Regions from separate parts of the Homo sapiens genome. Here regions 2 and 3 are each linked to region 1. Evidence: fine-mapped expression QTL. A gene starts in region 1. Each other region holds a variant in brackets. All regions are shown on one strand. Distances are between the middles of the regions.

What was found. PIP is the estimated chance that this variant, and not a neighbour inherited with it, causes the effect. A credible set is the group of variants that fine-mapping cannot tell apart.
Region 2: its variant is the best candidate, but not a certain one, in a credible set for the expression of ARCN1 in whole blood (TOPMed, PIP 0.89).
Region 3: its variant is the best candidate, but not a certain one, in a credible set for the expression of ARCN1 in blood mononuclear cells (TOPMed, PIP 0.56).

What each region holds. Positions count from the first base shown.
Region 1 is chr11:118,569,506-118,575,684 of GRCh38, forward strand. It overlaps ARCN1 (archain 1 coat protein complex I subunit delta), which reads left to right and starts at 2,904. Exons shown (of 10, transcript NM_001655.5): 1 at 2,904-3,045. The coding sequence starts at 3,043. It also overlaps a transcript of IFT46 not described here. RefSeq lists enhancers at 2,566-2,695, 3,206-3,285.
Region 2 is chr11:118,541,657-118,547,876 of GRCh38, forward strand. It overlaps IFT46 (intraflagellar transport 46), which reads right to left. Exons shown (of 12, transcript NM_001168618.2): 10 at 4,137-4,197; 11 at 3,753-3,838; 12 at 2,887-3,355. The coding sequence ends at 3,260. It also overlaps a transcript of TMEM25 not described here. Among named protein-coding and RNA genes, the nearest start is that of TMEM25, 14 kb to the left of the region's middle. The variant C/A (reference allele first, on the strand shown) is at 3,112.
Region 3 is chr11:118,936,984-118,943,443 of GRCh38, forward strand. No RefSeq gene overlaps it. Among named protein-coding and RNA genes, the nearest start is that of BCL9L, 14 kb to the left of the region's middle. RefSeq lists enhancers at 2,651-3,432, 3,433-4,212. The variant G/A (reference allele first, on the strand shown) is at 4,054.

The DNA.
Region 1 (6,179 bases):
AATATTTGAGCTTTCTAAAGATTTCTATTAGAAGGCCATTGGAGATGGAATTGATACGGGTAAGAGCAAGAAGTCTATAATGCAGTGCTTAAGGGTATAGTCCAAAGTTGAACAGCCTTTGTTTGAATCCTCGCTTACCTACTTTTTAGCCATGAGACCTGTGGTGGGATAGTTTTCTTCTCTGTACCTTGATTTCCTCATGTGTAAAATGGAGACAATAAAGGTACCTATCTCAGAGGATTCTTGTGAGGATTAAATGAGATAATCTGTGTGAAGTTAGAGTAATGGCTGGTATGCTGTAAGTGTTCAATAAATGTTAGGGAACACACAGGAGATACAGAGGCAGTGTGTTTTAATGGAAAAAGCTGACTTTGTTTTTTTGTTTGTTTGTTTTGAGACTGAGTGTTACTCTGTTGCCCAGTCTGGAGGGCAGTGTTGTGATCTCAACTCACTGCAACCTCCGCCTCCCAGGTTCAACCAATTCTCATGCCTCAGCTTCCCAGATAGCTGGGAGTACAGGCATGAGACACCACGCCCAGCTTTTTTTTTTTTTTTTTTTTTTTGAGACGGAGTCTCCCTCTGTCGCCACGCTGGAGTGCAGTGGCATGATCTCGGCTCACTGCAACCCAACCTCCGCCTCCTAGCTTCAAGGATTCCCCCACCTCAGCCTCCCGAACAGCTGAGACTACAGGCACGCGCCACCATGCCCAGCTAATTTTTTTTTTTTTGTACTCTTAGTAGAGATGGGGTTTCACCATGTTGGCCAGGATGGTCTCGATCTCTTGACCTTGTGATCCGCCCACCTCAGCCTCCCAAAGTGCTGGGATTACAGGCGTGAGCCACCGCGCCCAGCCAGGAGAAAACTGACTTTGAACTTGGCTCTACCACTTACTAGTTGTGTGAGTTTGGACAAATGCTTAACTTTTTTGATCCTCAGTATCTTTATTTGGATTGATGTAAAAGATTGGAAATAACATGTGTAAAGTACCTGACACAAATGAAGCACTCAATTAAAAGTTGCTATTATACTTAATTGTGGACATACAGGTTTAATATGGATGAGTGCTGTTCGGTTGAGCTAAGGATGTAGGATAAAATGATTTAAGGAAGAACTACTGAATCAGCTATACTCTGAAAAATCTGAAATTTGGCATACAAGAAATAACATGAGAATCACAAGAACAGATTTTGAGTCTTGGTTCCATCATATACTGGTTTAGAAACTTTGGGTAAGTCACTTAAACTTTTCACCATTTTCTTCATATACAAAATGGACATGAGCACAACTGCCCTGCTTCCAGTGCATGTTTTTTTAAAGATATAATTTACAAATCATAAAAATTCACCTTTTAAAATTATACAATTTAGTGGTTTTTAGTATATTTGCCTCTATCTAGTTCCAGAACTATTTTTTTTTTAAGAGTCTAAGTCTCACAATTTGCACAGGCTGACCTTTAACCCCTGGTCTCAAGCCATCCTCCCAACTCAGCCTCCCAAGTAGCTGGGACTCTAGGATCATGCCACCATGCCTGGCTTAATTCCAGAATGTTTTAATTATTCCAGAAATAAATCTTACACTAATTAACTGTCACTCTCTATTCCTACCCTTCCTGAGCCCCTGGAAATCACTAAGCTAGTTTCTGTCTCTGTGGATTTTCTTCTATTCTGGATCTTTCGTATTAATGGAATCATATATGAGTGCCCCATTGTATCCGTCTTTTTTCACATAATATTCTCAAGGTTCATCCATATTGTAGCATGTCAGTACTTTATTCCTTTTTGTGACTAAATAATATTCCATTGCATATATATGCCACATCTATTGATGAATGGATTTGTTTGGATTGTCTCCACTTTTTGGCTACTATGAATAATGCTGCTATGAACATTAGAGTACACATTTTTGTGTTGACATATATTCAGTTCTCCTGGGTATGTACCTATGAGTGGAATTGCTCAGTCATGTGGTAATTTTGTTTAACTTTTTGAGGAACTGCCAAACTCTTTTCCAACGTGGCTGCACTATTTTACATTCATCCTCACCAACAATTATTATGATAGCCATCCTAGTGAGTGTGAAATGACGTCTCACCACGGGTCTGATTTCCATTTCCCTAAGGATATTCAACATTTCTTAATGTGCATATTAGCCATTTATATATCTTCTTTGGACACATATCTATTCAAATCTTTTGCTCATTTTAATTTTGTGTTTTCTACTCCCTCCATTTTGCAGATGAAGCCCATTTTTAGACAGGAATACTGTATTTGTCTTTTTATTGCTGAGTTATAAGAGTTCTTAGGCCAGGCGCGGTGGCTGACGCCTGTAATCCCAACATTGGGAGGCTGAGGCGGGCGGATCACTTGGGGTCAGAAGTTTGAGGCTAGCCTGGCCGACATGGTGAAACCCCGTCTCAACTAAAAATACAAAAAACAGCCGAGCGTGGTGTGGCGCGTGCCTGTAATCCCAGCTACTCCGGAGGCTGAGGCAGAAGAATCGCTTGAACCTGGGAAGTGGAGGTTGCAGTGAGCCGAGATCACGCCATTGCACTCCAGCCTGGGCGACAGAGTGAGACTCCATCTCAAAAAAAAAAAAAAAAAGTTCTTTATATATTCCGGATACTGGTCTTTTAGGCACACAGGTTATCCTGTATATTAAATAATAGTGGCTGTGCCAGCGGCTTGTTAAACTGTAAGATGTGACGCAAAATAAATGAAGGCGATGACAGTGAAAGGGGAGAGATACGAGGTTCCACAGCTGGAGGGTGAACGCCCCCTACACCTCCTGGGCTTAATCGTAACCGGAGCGGGGTACCCTCAATTTCCCCAGCCCACAGGCCCCGCCCCCCCCCCCGCCCTTTGACCTGCGCCGCTTCCGGTTGAAGACGTGGCTTGGGGCCGCCATCTTGGCAAGAGGCGAAGCGGCAGCGGTTCCTGTCAAGGGGGCAGCAGGTCCAGAGCTGCTGGTGCTCCCGTTCCCCAGACCCTACCCCTATCCCCAGTGGAGCCGGAGTGCGGGCGCGCCCCACCACCGCCCTCACCATGGTAAGATCCGAGCCAGGACCCGAACTCCTGGGGTCCGAGCCTCACCGTCTCTCCTTGTCGGCGGGCCTGGGGCAGGGGCCGGAGGAGCCCCGCCCTGAGGGTCTAGGGCAGAGTGCTTTTGCTCCGGGCTCGGGGAGCAGTGTGGCCTCCTGTGCCCGGTCTCCTGGAGATCCGATGGAGCTGACTCCAGTCCATCTGTCGTCGTGCCCGCTTCCGCACCACCCCCCAACCAGCTGGACTCCCTCGTTTGCTGGGACCTGCCCCTGAGACGGCCCGGCGTTTTTGCTCTGCGAGAACTTCGTGGTGGTGGTGCGGGTCCCAGGCTGCGGACCTCGGAACTGATGCTGTCCCGCCGGTTCCCTGGCGCTTAGGCTCAGCAGGCTGGGCCTGTCTCCGGAGGTTCTGGTCCTTCTGTTAATCAGAGCTTGTCTCCCACCCCCGGTGTTTGCTAGGCCGTTGATAACTCGAAATGCAAATCCACTGGTGTCCAGAAATTTTTCTTTTTGTTCAGAAGGGGGAAATGGAGACACAGAGCGGAAAGGAGTAACTTCTAACACTAATGTATAGGACCCAAGTGTCTCTGAAACCTTCCACTACTTCCGCAGAACTCACTTGTGTCCATTTGTTAGTGTGACTCGGGGTACATACACTGTGTAGACCACTGGGAAAATGTGAGCAGGTTCCAGAGAACACAGGGTTTGCCTTCAAGGAACTTATTGTCCAGGTGAAGAAAAATGTGTATGTGGCATGTCGTAGTCAGATGTCTCACAGGAGGTGGAGTAAGAGGGATGGGTTAGCCTCCGAGACCAGTTACTTGCCTTCCCATGCGTTATCTTTGTATACTCATCTGTTACAAGGATGAGAAAGGTTAATGTGGTTGAGGATGGAGGAAATCAGAACTGCTGACATCACTCAATCTTCCTTTATCGCTGTGATTTGTGGATATTCATGAAGTAGTAGACATTCTTTGGTTTCAAAAAAGCTAGTAATTTATTTTTCAGTGCACCTTATGTCCTTTAGTCTTTTGAAGGATGTTCTGTTCTGTTCTTTTTTATTCTTTTGTCAATAGATAACTTGATTTAAAACATCGTCCAGTGTACCTGAGAGATGGCAGAATGTAATTTGGTGGCAATCCTAATAAGTTCTATTGACAACCCTTTAGATAAGAACTTGGATAATGGGGGGAATTCATGCTTGGACTTTAGGCCACTGAACAGCTTTTCTCAGCCTCAGGTATATAAATTGCATCAAACAGGTTTGCCTCCTAAAATTTTTGTGTTGGACACAAAATTTCCAGAAACTTGTATTTTCAGTTTCTCCAGGAGGTTCTGTATTTGGTTAGTGATTTTGAAACTCAGTTCCCGTTTACACCCTGGAATTAATAATGCATTTTAGAGCATATTTTTATTTTAATAGTAAAGTTAAGGTCTTGTATTATATAAACCAGATAAAGGTAATCTTTCTAAAAATATTCTTTGTTAAAAGGTTCTTGGAACTTAGTATTTTTAATTCATTGATAACTGAGGGATGGTAAAGCCCTACGTGATATATATAAAATATAACTTTTGCATGCTATTTTGACATGTGTACGTATACATAGAGTTGTGTCACATATTTCTGAATTATTTGGGACTTAACATGATCCAGATACCCACAGATTTGTGTACTCTGGAGAACAATTTATCTCAGTACATTCTGCTCTGTAGAGTGTTAAGACATTGGTATGATTTCTGTGTAATGTTTTTGGGTCCTGCTCCTTTACAAACAGATCCCTGGACAGTAGAAATGTCCAGATAGGGTGAAATTTTTATCTAAAAGTTGTATCAAAATTTCCAGCGTTTATTTTAGCTCAACATTTCATTATGAAATTTTCCAACATCTGGAAAAGTTGAAAGAACTTTGTAGTGAATACCCATATAACCACCAACTAGATTCTATAACTAACATTTCACTATATTTTATCATGCATCTAATCATCCATCCATCCCTCTCTCCATTAAAAAAAAATATACATTTCAAAGTAAGTTGCAGATATCAGTACGTAAACATTGATTTTTTAAAAAATAAATTCCCTTTGGCTTTAGTTATTGAAGTGCAGAATGTCCTAGACTGCAAAGTTCCAATAGATAAATAAGTGAACAAATGCAGAAACAAATGCTTTCTCATGACTTCATCATAAAATAAAGTACAAAGAAAGGCATCTTTTGATTTTTTTTTTTTAAAGAGACAGGGTCTCACTATGTTGCCCAGGCTGGAGGGCAGTAGCTATTCACAGGCGCTATCATAGTGCACTGCGGCCTAGAACTCCTAGCCTCAAGCAATCCTCCCGCCTCCATATCCCAAGTAGCTGGGACTGTAGGCATGCGGGCCTTGATTTGATCTTTTTTTTGTATTCTGCAAATTAATGAGAACATGTTCTGACTTTTTTTCTTGTTTGTTTGGTTTTCGAGACGGATTCTCGCTCTGTCTCCAGGCTGGAGTGCAGTGGCACAATCTCAGCTCACTGCAACTTCTGCCTCCCGGGTTCAAGCTATCCTCCTGCCTCAGCCTCCTGAGTAGCTGGGACTGCAGGCGCCTGCCACCACGCCCAACTACTTTTTTGTATTTTTAGTAGATACGGGGTTTCACCATGTTAGCCAGGATAGTCTCGATCTCCTCACCTCGTGATCTGCCCGCCTCGGCCTCCCAAAGTGCTGGGATTATAGGTGTGAGCCATGGCGCCCGGCCCCTGTATTATTTATGTATCTTTTTAATTGTGTTTTGAGGGACAGCAAAGAAAGAAAATGATTCTCTTGAGTTTCCATTGATTTGCCATCTATTTATGTCTTCATATAGAAGTTCACTGCAGAAACTGATAACGGGTGTGTGTGTGTGTGTGTGTGTGTGTTTTAATTCTCTGCAAGCTTTTGTTTTAGAATAGAAATGTGATGGACTTAAAACCCTCACTGAGTAAATTACTTTTCAAGTTTTAGGTTTCGTATGTGGTCTACATTTTATTGTAATCTTCTCTCTGATTTTATCTATAATAGCTTCATATAAATAGAAAAGACAGAACAGTCCTCCCTGACAATTATAGAAACTAGCCTTAATATGACCATGAATTGTGTGTGCATGTATATGTGTATAAAATATTG
Region 2 (6,220 bases), 28 kb before region 1:
AGCATAGTATCCAATAGGTAGTTTTTCAACCACTCTAGTGGTCCACAGTGTCTGTTCTTCCCATGTTTATGTCCATGTGTGCTCCATGTTTAGCTCTCACTTATTTTTATATATGTTTTAAGACAGGGTCTCATTCTGTCACCCAGGCTGGAGTGCAGTGGCACAATCACGGCTCACTGCAGCCTCGACCTCCCGGGCTTAATCGATCCTCCTACCTCAGCCTCTCGAGTAGCTGGGACCACAGGTGTATACCATCATGCCTGGCTAATTTTGTATTTTTTGTAGAGACGTGGTTTCACTTCGTTCCCCGGCTGGTCTCAAACGTTTGGGCTCAAGCAGTCCTCCGGCTTCAGCCTCCCAAAGTGCTGGGATTACAGGTGTGACTCACTGTGCCTGGCCTTTTTAGCTCCCACTTACAAGTAAGAACATGCACTGTTTGGTTTTTTGTTCCTGCGTTAATTCGCTTAGAATTCTGGGGGCCGGGAAGTACACGGTTGAGGGGTACATCTGGTGAGGGTCTTTTTGCTTGTGGGGACTCTGCAGAATTCTGAGGCAATGCAGAGCATCACATGGCAAGGGGGCTGGACATGCTAAGTCAGGTCTCTCTTCTTATAAAGCCACCAGTCCCACTCCCATGATAAGCCGCCAATGCATTTAATACCCATTAATCTATAAGTGGATTAATCCACTCATCAGGGCAGAGCCCTCGTGACCCAAACACCTCTTAAAGGCCCCACTTCTTGATATGGCCGCATTGAGGATTAAATTTCAACATGAGTTTTGGAGGGGACAAATAGGCAAACAATAGCAAATCATAAATAAATATTGAGGGCCAGGCGCAGTGGCTCATGCCTATAATCCCAGCACTTTGGGAGGCCAAGACCAGAGGATGAGTTGAGGCCAGGAGTTGGAGACCAGCCCGGGCAACATAACAAGAACTTGTCTCTACAAAAAAATATATATATAAAAATTAAGCCTGGGCACAGTGGCTTACTCCTATAATCCCAGCACTTTGGGAGGCCAAGGCAGGCAGATCACCTAAAGGCAGGAATTCAAGACCAGCCTGGGCAACATGGTGAAACCCCTTCTCTACTAAAAATACAAAAATTAGCCAGCCGTGGTGGTGCATGCCTGTAATCCCAGCTACTGGGGAGGCTGAGGCAGGAGAATTGCTTGAACCCAGAAGGCAGAGGCTGCGGTATGCCAAGATCGCACCACTGCACTCCAGCCTCGGTGACAGAGCGAGACTCTGTCTCAAACAAACAAACAAAACAAAACAAAAAACCAAAAATTTGCTGGGTGAGGCTGGGCGCAGTGGCTCATGCCTGTAATCCCAGCACTTTGGGAGGCTGAGGCAGTCGGATCATGAGGTCAGCAGATTGAGACCACCCTGGCTAACACGGTGAAACTCCATCTCTACTGAAAATACAAAACAAATTAGCCGGGTGTAGTGGTGCATGCCTGTAATCCCAGCTACTCGGGAGGCATAGGCAGGAGAATCGCTTGAACCCGGGAGGTGGAGGTTGCTGTAAGCCTCAGTTTTGTCAGCTCAAAGTTTGTCATCAGCTCAAACGTGCCTGCTCCTTAAACTCAAGCATGATGATCATAGTTAAAGGGTTTGTAAGAAACAGTTCCTCTCCTACCCATGTGTTTATTGTGTATCTATTAGGCTGATGGTATCGATTTTGTTTTGTTTTGTTTTTTTAGACAGCACCTCTGCTACCAGCGCCGGCAATGACTACCACCCCTTTGACTTTTATGTTCCTCAGTACCCTCCGTTCTCCCTTTTGCTCCTTCAGCCTCTACAACACTTTTGTAACCAATTTATCATATTATTATATATTTTTTTGAGAAAGAGTTTTGCTCTGTTGCCCAGGCTGGAGTGCAGTGGCGCGATCTTGGCTCGCTGCAACTGCCACCTCCTGGGTTCAAGTGATTCTCCTGTCAGCCTCCCGAGTAGCTGAGATTACAGGTGCCCACCACCACACCCAGCTAATTCTTTGTATTTTTAGTAGAGACAGGGTTTCACCATGTTGGCCAGGCCAGTCTTGAACTGCTGACCTCAAGTGATCCACCCGCCTCAGCCTCCCAAAGTGCTGGGATTACAGGCATGAGCCACTGCACCTGGCCAATTCCCCATATTAAACACCCCCTTTTTTTTTTTTTTTGAGATGCAGTTTTGCTTTGTTGCCCAAGCTGGAGTGCAGTGCCACGATCTTAGCTCACTGTAACCTCCACCTCACGGATTCAAGTGATTCTTCTGCCTCAGTCTCCTGACTAGCTGGGACTACAGGCATGCACCAAAACACCCGGCTAACTTTTGTATTATTAGTAGAGGTGGGGTTTCACCATATTATTGGCCAGGCTGGTCTCGAACTCCTGACCACATGATCTGCCTGCCTGGGCCTCCCAAAGTTCTGGGATTACAGGCGTGAGCCACTGTGCCTGGCTAAACACCCTTTGTTAGAAATAACTAGCATGGTTTCAGACTTCCTGACTGGAGCTTGGCTGACATAACTCCAAAATATTTACTGAATCTGTCCATCTCTACTACTGCCACCCCAATCACCTCTCACCTGGATTACCGCAATAGCTACGCTCCCTGAGACCAGAACCAGACAGGTCTGGAGCCAGACAGCCTCAGGAAGGCGGCATTAACTGAAGAGAGACCCTTAGAAAAATTAAATTCCAGAGGAAAAATGATTCCCCTCGACTGCCAATCTTGGAGGATTGGGGTTTCATTTTATTTCACAAAATTTGTTTGCTTTAACTACTCTTCATTTAATGCCCATTACTAAGCAAAGTTCCTGTGTCTCTGCGTTATGCTCAGTCAGCCTTTTCTCTTTCATATTAAATAGCAGAATAATCTGACAATATAATAGAGCATTTGATTTATAAAATCTTTACTCACTAACTTTACGAATGAAAGAAAACAATTCCATCCCTCTCACAAAAAGGACATCTTTTAAGCTTTCCTCCCAATCTAACCTCCATGGGATCTCAGAAATTCCAATTCTTATAACTCAAATCCCCACAGTGGTGTAGATGCATTAACTCCCCGGGGACAGCAATCTGAGGCAGGCAGGTTCATTAAACAAACATGTTCTGTGC[C/A]CTCTGGCAGAGAGGGCAGCAGGACATGCACTGCCCCTGAGCCAAGCTGTGGCATGGGCAAGGACATCAAGTAGCTGACAACGATCTGTCCATCTCAGCTGGGGCAGAGGGGCCAGCTCAGCCTTGAAACAGCAGCTTGGGAAGTGTCTCAGCTGAAGGTTAATGTCTCCATGTCTCCAGCTTGGGAGGTGGAATTGGATGAAGGAGTGAATGCTTTCTTGCCTTCAGCGAGAGCTTTAAAATGCTGCAAGGAAGAGGAGAGGGAATATTGAGTATTAGGGATATGCTAATTGCTATATTTTAACAAGAATTAATTTCTTTAAAATGAACCCCCTTTATTTCCTTCCTGCTTCCATTCATGAGGGAACTTGGTTCTGAAAGAACGAGTGTCCTCTGTAGATCCTCACCTGATTTCATCTAAGGCCCACAACTCCTACTTCCACCCACCCTTTTTTTTCCTCCACTTTCCCCTTGAAAACTCCATCCCTGCCTCCTTTGCTCTCCTAATTATGGGAAAGGGCGAAGGTAACTGGGCAGAGACATCCTACATCGCTATAGGATGCAATCACAGCAGGCTCAGAACAGTAGAAACTATAGTGATCCTCTCTACAGCTTAAGTCAACCCCTGATGCTTGGCTCACCTGTGAGTTCTTGAATTCTGAGTAGAGGGAAAAGAGCAGATGGAGGGACTGGATCCGACTCTTGTAGACAGGGATGTCTAGAATGGCTGAAACGAAGAAGAACTTCCAGGAACAGAAGCAAACAAACTCCGGGAATTAGAGGCCCTTCTGTCTAGCACAGGCAAAGCCCTGGCAGATGGGGTGTCGCTATGACTTTGGGGGTTAAATACCCAGCAGGTAGTCACATAAGCCAAACACCACCTTTGAGTGCTGCCAAAGAGCACAACGGGCTTAAAGTGAAGGCTGAAACTCAAGATACTATCTTCCCAGAGTAAACAAGCCTGTCCAAAAGCCTAGAGTGTCTCTATCCAGAGATGGGGACGAGGAAAGGAAAGAGGAACTCACCACAGATCATGTCAATGTACTCTGCCAGGCTGCAATCAATCTCTGCCGTGGGCAGGCTTACCTGGAAGGGGCATGGAAGGACCAAAGTCAAAAGGATGGTGTCAGTGGTCCCAGAACCACTCTCTCTCTCTGAAGCAAAAGAGCTTCTAGCATAAGACACAGGTTATGGGCTGAAATGTGTTCCCCTAAAATTCAGATATTGAGTTCCTAACTCCCTGTACTTCAGAATGTGACTATATTTGGAGATAACATCTTTAAAGAGATAATTAAATTAAAACAAGGTCATTAGGGTGGGCCTTAATCCAGTATGACTGGTGTCCTTATAGGAAGAAGAAATCAGGACAAAGACGCATAACAGAGGGAAGACCATGGGAAGACACAGAAGATGGCCAAGAAGAGACCCCTCAGAAGAAATCAATCTTGGTGGGGCGTGGTGGCTTCACGCCTGTAATACCAGCACTGTGGGAGGTTGAGGTGGGCAGATCGCCTGAGCCTAGGAGTTCGAGACCAGCCTGGGCAACATGGTGAAATTCCATCTCTACAAAAAAATTAGCCGGGTGTGGTGTTGAGTATCTGTAGTCCCAGCTACTTGGGAGGCTGGGGTGGGAGGACTGCTTGAGTCCAGCAGGTTGAGGCTGCAGTGAGCTGAGATTGAGCTACTGCACTCCAGCCTGGGCATAGAGTAATACCCTGTAAAAAAAAAGGAAGGAAGGGAGGGAGGGAATCAACCATGCCAACAAATTGATCTTGGACTACTACTGGACTACTAGCCTCCAGAACTATGAAATAATACATTTCTGATGTCTAAGCCACTCAGTCTATGGTACTTTGTTATGGCAGCCTAGCAAAATAATACAACATGCTATTTTTTCCCCCGATCAGTATGGAATTGGTCATATGTTTTATAGGTAAAATACACTGCCATACTCTTTTCCTGTGGGAATCTGTGAAAAAGAAACTGATACCAAGTTATGGGCAAGTATTAACAGTTATATATGCATTACTTGGTGTTATAATGCCTAATGATTCCAGGACACCATATGAACAGAGAAAATGGGCATGACATCTAACTCAGGTAACAGGCTCTGGATCTAAACAAGTCACAGTGTGAAGTTTTTAAACTACTGGTTTCTTAAAACTTTTCTCTTTTTACAAAAAACAGAGTACATATAGTTCTGCAACTTGCTGCAATTTGCTTTTTTCATTTAACAACATATCACTGATATTTCTTCATATTAGAGCAAAATAAGGCCAAATAATATTCCATTGCATAGTATTTCACTGAATGGATGTACTGCAACCTAGCTATTCAATCCCCTAATCAGACACCTTCCCCTCAACTACAGCTTCAAAATGCTCTGAGGAAAGAGACTGTTTCCAAATTCTGTGTGTTTACAATCAATTCTTCATATACAAAAAAAATCTGTCTTTGTAGAGCTTACATTTTAGTAGGGAAGAACAAAATAAGTAAATAAAGTCTATGGTATGTTAGAAGATAAGTGTTATCAAGAAAAAGCAGGGACAGAGGGCGGGGAATGCTGGGGAGCTGGTGCAGCAGTTTAAACATGATGGCTAGGAAGGACCTGTTGGTCATCTTTGTTCAGTTTCCTTTTCTGTTTTGATACTTTAAAAAAATTCTTTTTTGAGACGGAGTCTTGCTCTGTTGCCCAGACTGGAGTGCAGTGGCATGATCTTGGCTCTCTGCAACCTCCACTTCCTGGATTCAAGCAATTCTCCTGTCTCAGCCTCCTGAGTAGCTGGGATTACAGATGTGCGCCACCAGGCCCGGCTAATTTTTTTGTGTTTTCAATAGAGACAGGGGTCTCACCATGTTGGCCAGGCTGGTCTCAAACTCCAGACCTCAGGTGATCCACCTGCCTCAGCCTCCCAAAGTGCTGGGATTACAGGCATGAGCCACCGTGTCCAGCTCCTTTTACTTTTCTTTTCTTTTCTTTTTTTTTTTTTTTTTTTTGAGACAGAGTCTCACTCTTTCGCCCAGGCTGGAGTGTAGTGGCGCTATCTTGGCTCACTACAATCTCCGTCTCCCGGGTTCACGCCATTCTCCTGCCTCAGCCTCCCAAGTA
Region 3 (6,460 bases), 370 kb after region 1:
CTCAGCCTCCCAAGTAGCTGGGATTGCAGGTGCACGCCACCACGCCCGGCTGATTTTTTGTATTTTTAGTGGAAACAGGGTTTCACCATGTTAGCCAGGCTGGTCTCGAACTCCCGATCTCAGGTGATCCGCCCGCCTCAGCCTCCCAAAGTGCTGGGATTACAGGCGTGAGACACCGCGCCCGGCCTGATGTCCCTTTTTCTTTTCTTTTTTTAAGACGGAGTTTCACTCTTGTTGCCCAGGCTGCAGTGCAATGGCGCGGTTGGTCTCAGCTCACCACAACCTCAGCCTCCCGGGTTCAAGCGATTCTCCTGCCTCAGCCTCCCATGTAGCTGGGATTACAGGCGCCTGCCACCATGCTCAGCTAATTTTTATATTTTTAGTAGAGACGGGGTTTCACTATGTTGGCCAGGCTGGTCTGGAACTCCTGACCTCAAGTCATCTGCCCGCCTCAGCTTCCCAAAGTGCTGGGATTACGGATGTGAGCCACCGCACCCAGCTTGATGTCCCTTTTTCTTTCTCCCTATCCCCTCTGCCCCACCAGTGCTGATGTCTTAGACTGAACTTACTAAAACCCCGGATTCTTTTTCACCTGAACTTCTTCTAAGCCATGTCTGGCCCACTGTGTATTGCTGAGGTCTTACATAGATCTCTGATCACTTTATTCTGTTAGGTTTACCTAACCATTCTATACATGGAGATGATTCTTGGATCCTTATCTTTCAATGTTTACTATCCCTCAAGGGTTATATCTGTGAAATGTGATACTATATTTTCATATAAGCTGTTAATAAAAATATTTAACAGGAAAGAGATGGAGACAAAACCCTAAAGTATGCAAATGTTCTTCCGCTTGGTACCAATCCATGTCACACTGAGAAGTAGCAAGAATAAATGGTTTTGTAGGTGGGATGGAGTCAGATCAAAATGAGCCTCAAAAGAAGAAAATAGAAAGGCTCAGAAGGTTTTTGAGTGAAGAGTGATACAAGGAACAATCTGGTATAGCAAAAAAACAAAACACTAACCCTGGAACTCAACAGATCTGGATCTGATCTACAATTCCAGGTCTATTGCTTATTAGCTGTAGAACTTTGGGCAAATTAACCGCTCTGAGCATCTGTTTCTTCTCCTGTAAAATGCGATAACAACTACCTTAGGATTTATTGTGAAGATTAAAAGAGATAGCATATATGACAAGCCTAGTACATAACAGGTGCTCAATAAATGAAGAAGAAAAATGGGAGGGTGAGGAGGAGGAGAAGAAAGTCATGCTCAGGACAGGCCCAGGTCTAGTAGTGTCTCACTCTATTGCCCAGGCTAGAGTGCAGTGGCACGATCTCGGCTCACTGGAACCTCCACCTCCCGGGTTCAAGTGATTCTCCTGCCTCAGCCTCCTGAATAGCAGGGATTACAGGCATGTGCCACCATGTCCAGGTAATTTTGTATTTTTAGTGGGGGTTTCACCATGTTGGCCAGGCTGGTCTTGAACTCCTGACCTCAAGTCATCCACCCGCCTTGGCCTCCCAAAGTGCTAGAATTACAGGCATGAGCCATGGCACCTGGCCAGGTCTGGTTTCTGAAGAGGGACTACACTTGTGGTAAACCCAAGTGGAAAGTCCACCTCTGAGGCTACTGTGAGGGCCTGAGATGACTCACTGGGGCTGGGGCTTGGTCTAGGATAATATGTATGGAATGGCAAAGGGAAGGAAGCAGATCTGAATGACATTTCCAAAGGAGAATTGATCCACCTTGGACTCAAGTGAGGTGTGGAGGATGACAGAGAGAGGAGTCACACGTAGCACCAAGGTTTTTACTCTGGGTAGTGACAGGGAAGTACGAAGGGGGTGATGGCTTGGGGAAGATGGTTCATGGTTAGTCACTGCATTAGGCATGGCAGTAGGATACCAAGTGGACATGACCAGTGAGGAGGTGAAGCGATTCGATTAGAACTTCAGAGAAAGAGAAGTCAGAGCCAAAGTTATGTTCCTGGGAAGCACCGCATGCCAGTGGTAGCTGCAGGCATTGGGTGAGGTTTCTGAGGGTGAGCTGGGAAGCGAACCAAGGACAGGACCCTGTAGGACACATCCGGAGCCATGACTTAGGGCTGGAGAAGAAACTGCCCCACACTGCTTTCCCTCCCCACCATTCTCTGCCTCCTGGTCAGAGTTGCAAAGATCAACCCAAGCTGACACCCACCCACCCACTGCATCACTGCAGACAGAAATCTGTGCAGAGCCCACTGGAATCGAAACCCTCCAGGACTCTGCTTTTCTGTCCTGATATCAGAAAGGACACAAGTTCTTGTCTAATCAACAGACCCCAGCTTGTTGCTGCAATCGTGCACTTGAAAAGGGAGAGGCAGGAGGGATGCCACAGAGAGAGATGTGGACAGAGGCAGGCAGGGACACCTTCGTGAAGAGCAGGAGAGAAACAGAAGCTGAGGGACAAAGGGGAGGGGAGCGCTGTGAGTACCTCAAAAGGCCGACTGACAGAGGAGGAGAAAAAGAGACTTAAGGAGGGGGCAGGAGAAAAGATTCGCTGGGAAGCTGATGAAGTGCAACTGAGAAAACTGTTGCCATGGTGATGGGTCCAGAGGAGGGAGTAGGAATATAAATCGGATTATGAGTTGGGGGAGTCTGTATGTGCCGAGGGTGTTCAAAACCCAGATGCTGTCCCCCCAACACCAGGCCCTCCCCACGAGATCTTCCACTGCGAGAAGCCTTTCCCAGAGGTCCTCCCCAGGCCAGGCCAAGGAATGCAGTGAGCAGAGGCACTGGAGTGGCCCAGGGCTCAGCATTCCCTCCCCTCCTCCCCCAAAGGCCCCTCAGTGATACAAAAGAGCCCTGCACCCCCACACCAGGTGCCCCTAGCCTCTTGGAGAGTCCTCTGCACAGACCCTCTTCATCAGCATCCCGAGGAGGAGAGGAGGATGTTGTTTTAAGCACCTACTTGCTATGTGGCAAGCAGCGTGTTGGGCACTTCATTCCTTGTTCATTTGGTCCCCACCAGGGCTCTGTGGGGTGGTATTACCACCTCCATTCATAGACAGGAAGCGGGTCCAGGACACAAGCTGGAAGGCCGCAGGCAGAGGGCATGTAATCCTGGCCCATCCGCTCCAAAGCCCATTCTTTTTCTCCTAGCCCTGGCCTGCCTCACATGGCCTGCTTCCCATCCCCTGCTGCCATCTCCTGCACCCTTAGGGCACAGTGGGCATCTCGGGAGCTGCTCAGCGGACAGACTAGGGTGAGGCTCTAACTCCATTCTTGGAGATGAAGGGAACTGGGGAGGCTTGAGGCAAATATGCCACAGCCAGCGAGACTCCAGGCTGGGGAGGAGGTGCAGGGCAGCGCTGAGCTCAGGGCTGGGGAAATGGGGAGGAAGGGCTGAGGTAGAGAGGCCCCGGGGGGTGGGGGGAAGCTCCAAGGCCCAGCCATTTCCGGCAGAGCAGAAACTCCCAGCATGGGCCACGTGGGGAGCTGGGGAAGCTGCAAGTCTCGGAGTGGTGAGGGAGAGCGCTGGGGGTGGGCATTTCCCTGCAGGTCCCTGCAAGTGGAAGTGGCTGGAGGGAGGAAAGAGAGGGGAGCAGTTTCCCTCCTTCGTCTTCCCTCAGGTTTCTGTACAAGTAACAGTTTTGCAAAGGGCACCAGTATCTGATGTGCATATCAAACAGGGCCTGGGGAGGCGGGAGAAGGCCAAGCTCAGGGCTGCGGCCTGGGCAGCTGTGCCAAGACCACCCCCCAACCCCAGGAGGATGGGATAGGATTCCAAAGCATTCCCACCCCTTCCCATCATACCTGGCTGTTCCTTCTGGTGACCATGAAACATCCCCCACTGTTCTCTCAGGGGACCAGCCTGAGCCACACCCCAACTTGGAAGTCCCTGTTGGGGTGGGTGGGGGGTCAGAAATGCCTGGACTCCAAGAGGGGTTAAAGGTCACAATTCTGTTGGGTCCCTTGGCCACTGGGCTGGAGAGGCCAGGTCTCTGCCCCACCTCTCCAAAGGAGGATAGGGCTCCTTCCTCCGAAGGCCTGGAGGGAAGGGCGTCCCAGGATC[G/A]GCTTGCTTTGGTGCTTCATTCATACATTCTCCTCCACCCTCCACCCTCCACCAGCATCCCAGGGAGGCCCTCCTAACCCTATTTCCCTGTGCCCATCAGAGGTTCTTTCAGACAACTAAGAAGGGGGCCCAGCAGGAGCCAAAAAGATCTAAGGAAGTGCATGGGGTGGCGGGGTCGGGGGGTTGGATCCTTCTCTTTCCTCCTCCTGCCCTCCCGAGGCCCTCTGGTCTCTTACCCTTTCACTGAGTCCTAGAACCTCCACACAGCCATTTAGTCCTTCAGCATCCTCTTGCCCAGCTTAGTCCCTCTGATTCGCATGCCCTCCAGTTTGAAGAGATTTCCAGTGACTCCTCCGACTTGCCAAATCCAAGGAGCACATTTCAGCACATCTCTTCGGTTCCCTGTGGTCCTGATGCTGCTCGCTGTGCCTCCCACAAGCATCTTCCTTGGGCACCTGGGATACTGCTCCCTCCTGGCTATTCTTTTTCCTTTTAGGGAAGTTTCTCGGTTTCCTTTGCAGTCTCCTCTTTTCCTTTGCCCATAAATGTTGGGGCTCCCCAGGCTCTGTCCTTCACCTTGTCTTCTCACTCAGCATCCACTTGCTCCTCTCCAAGGCTTCAGCTGTTGCGCCTGTGCTGACCTTTCCTGTGCTCCAGACCACACATCCAGCCACCCTCAACATACCTCCATCCGGGTGTCCTTCAGGCACGTAAATTGGCAAGTTCAAGACCCAAATATCTCCACCCAGCCCCTCGCCACAGCCTGCCCCTCCCACCCCCCACTGTGTTCTCTAGCCCCTGACGGTTCTGTCATCCACCCTGCTGCCCAAACCAGGACCTGGGAGCATCCTCCTTAACTCTGCTCCCCAAACCGCACACAACTGTCCCTGTCAAACCATCACTAGACCCTGTCAATTTTGCCCTCTGCCTAGAGCAGTAGCCTATGCCTATAATCTCAGCACTTTGGAAGGCTGAGGCGGAAGGATCTCTTGAGCTCAGGAGTTCAATACCAGCCTGGGAAGCACATTGACACCCCATCTGTACAAATAAAAAGTTTAAAAAAATAGCAGGGCGCGGTGGCTCATGCCTGTAATCCCAGCACTTTGGGAGGCGAATGCAGGTGGATCACGAGGTCAGGAGTTCAAGACCAGCCTGGCCAACATGGTGAAACCCTGTCTCTACTAAAAAAAAAAAAAAAAAATTAGCTGGGTATGGTGGTGTGTGCCTGTAGTCCCAGCTACTTGGGAGGCTGAGGCAGGAGAATTGCTTGAACCTGGGAGGTGGAGGTTGCAGTGAGCTGAGATCATGCCACTGCACTGTAGCCTGGGCGACAAAGCAAGACTCTGTCTCAAAAAAATAAAAAAATTTTAAAAATTAGCCAGGCATGATGGTGCACATCTATAGTCCCAGCTAACTTGGGAGGCTGACACAGGAGGGTCACTTGAGCCCAAGCTTGAGCTGCAGTGAGCTATGATCATGTCACTAAACTCCATTGTGGGCAACAGTAGAAGACCCTTTCTCAAAAAAAAAAAAAAGCCCTCTCCCCAAATCTCCTCTTCTATCGTTTCTTGCCTAGGATCTGATTTCTTTTTGTTTGTTTTTTTTTTTTTTTGGAGGCAAAGTCTCACTCTGTCACCCTGGCTGCAGGGACATGATGCAGCCTCCGCCTCCCAGGTCCAAGAAATTCTCCTGGCTCAGCTTCCCGAGTAGCTGGGATTACCGGCAGGTGCCACCATGCCTGGCTAACGTTCGTTATTTTTAGTAGAGACGGTTTTGCCATATTGGCCAGGCTGGTCTCAAACTCTTGACCTCAAGGGATCCGCCCAAAGTGCTGGGATTACAGGCACGAGCCACCACGCCAGCCTAGAATCTGATTTTTTTTTTTTTTTTTTTGAGATGGAGTCTCGCTCTGTCGCCCAGGCTGTAGTGCAATGGCGCAATCTCCACTCACTGCAACCTCTGTCTCCCAGGTTCAAGCAATTCTCCTGCCTCAGTCTCCCAAGTAGCTGGGATTACAGGTGCGCACCACCACGCCCAGCTAATTTTTAAAATTTTTTAGTAGAGATGGGATTTCACTATGTTGGTCAGGCTGGTCTCGAACTCCTGACCTCGTGGTCCACCCGCCTCAGCCTCCCAAAGTGCTGGGATTACAGGCGTGAGCCACCGTGCCTGGCCTTAGAATCTGATTTTAACAGCCTTTAAAATGTCTCCCAGCTATCCATCCAACACAATCTCTACATTGCAGCAAGAGCCATCTGTATTCAATACAATGTGATCAGCACACTCTCCAGTTTAAAACCCTTCAAGGGCTTCCTTTTATCCTTAGGATCAAAATTAAAATTCCTTAAAGGGACTGTAAAAGCCTTCCATCTTTTCCCAGCTACTTCTCCAGTGACTTCCCCAAATT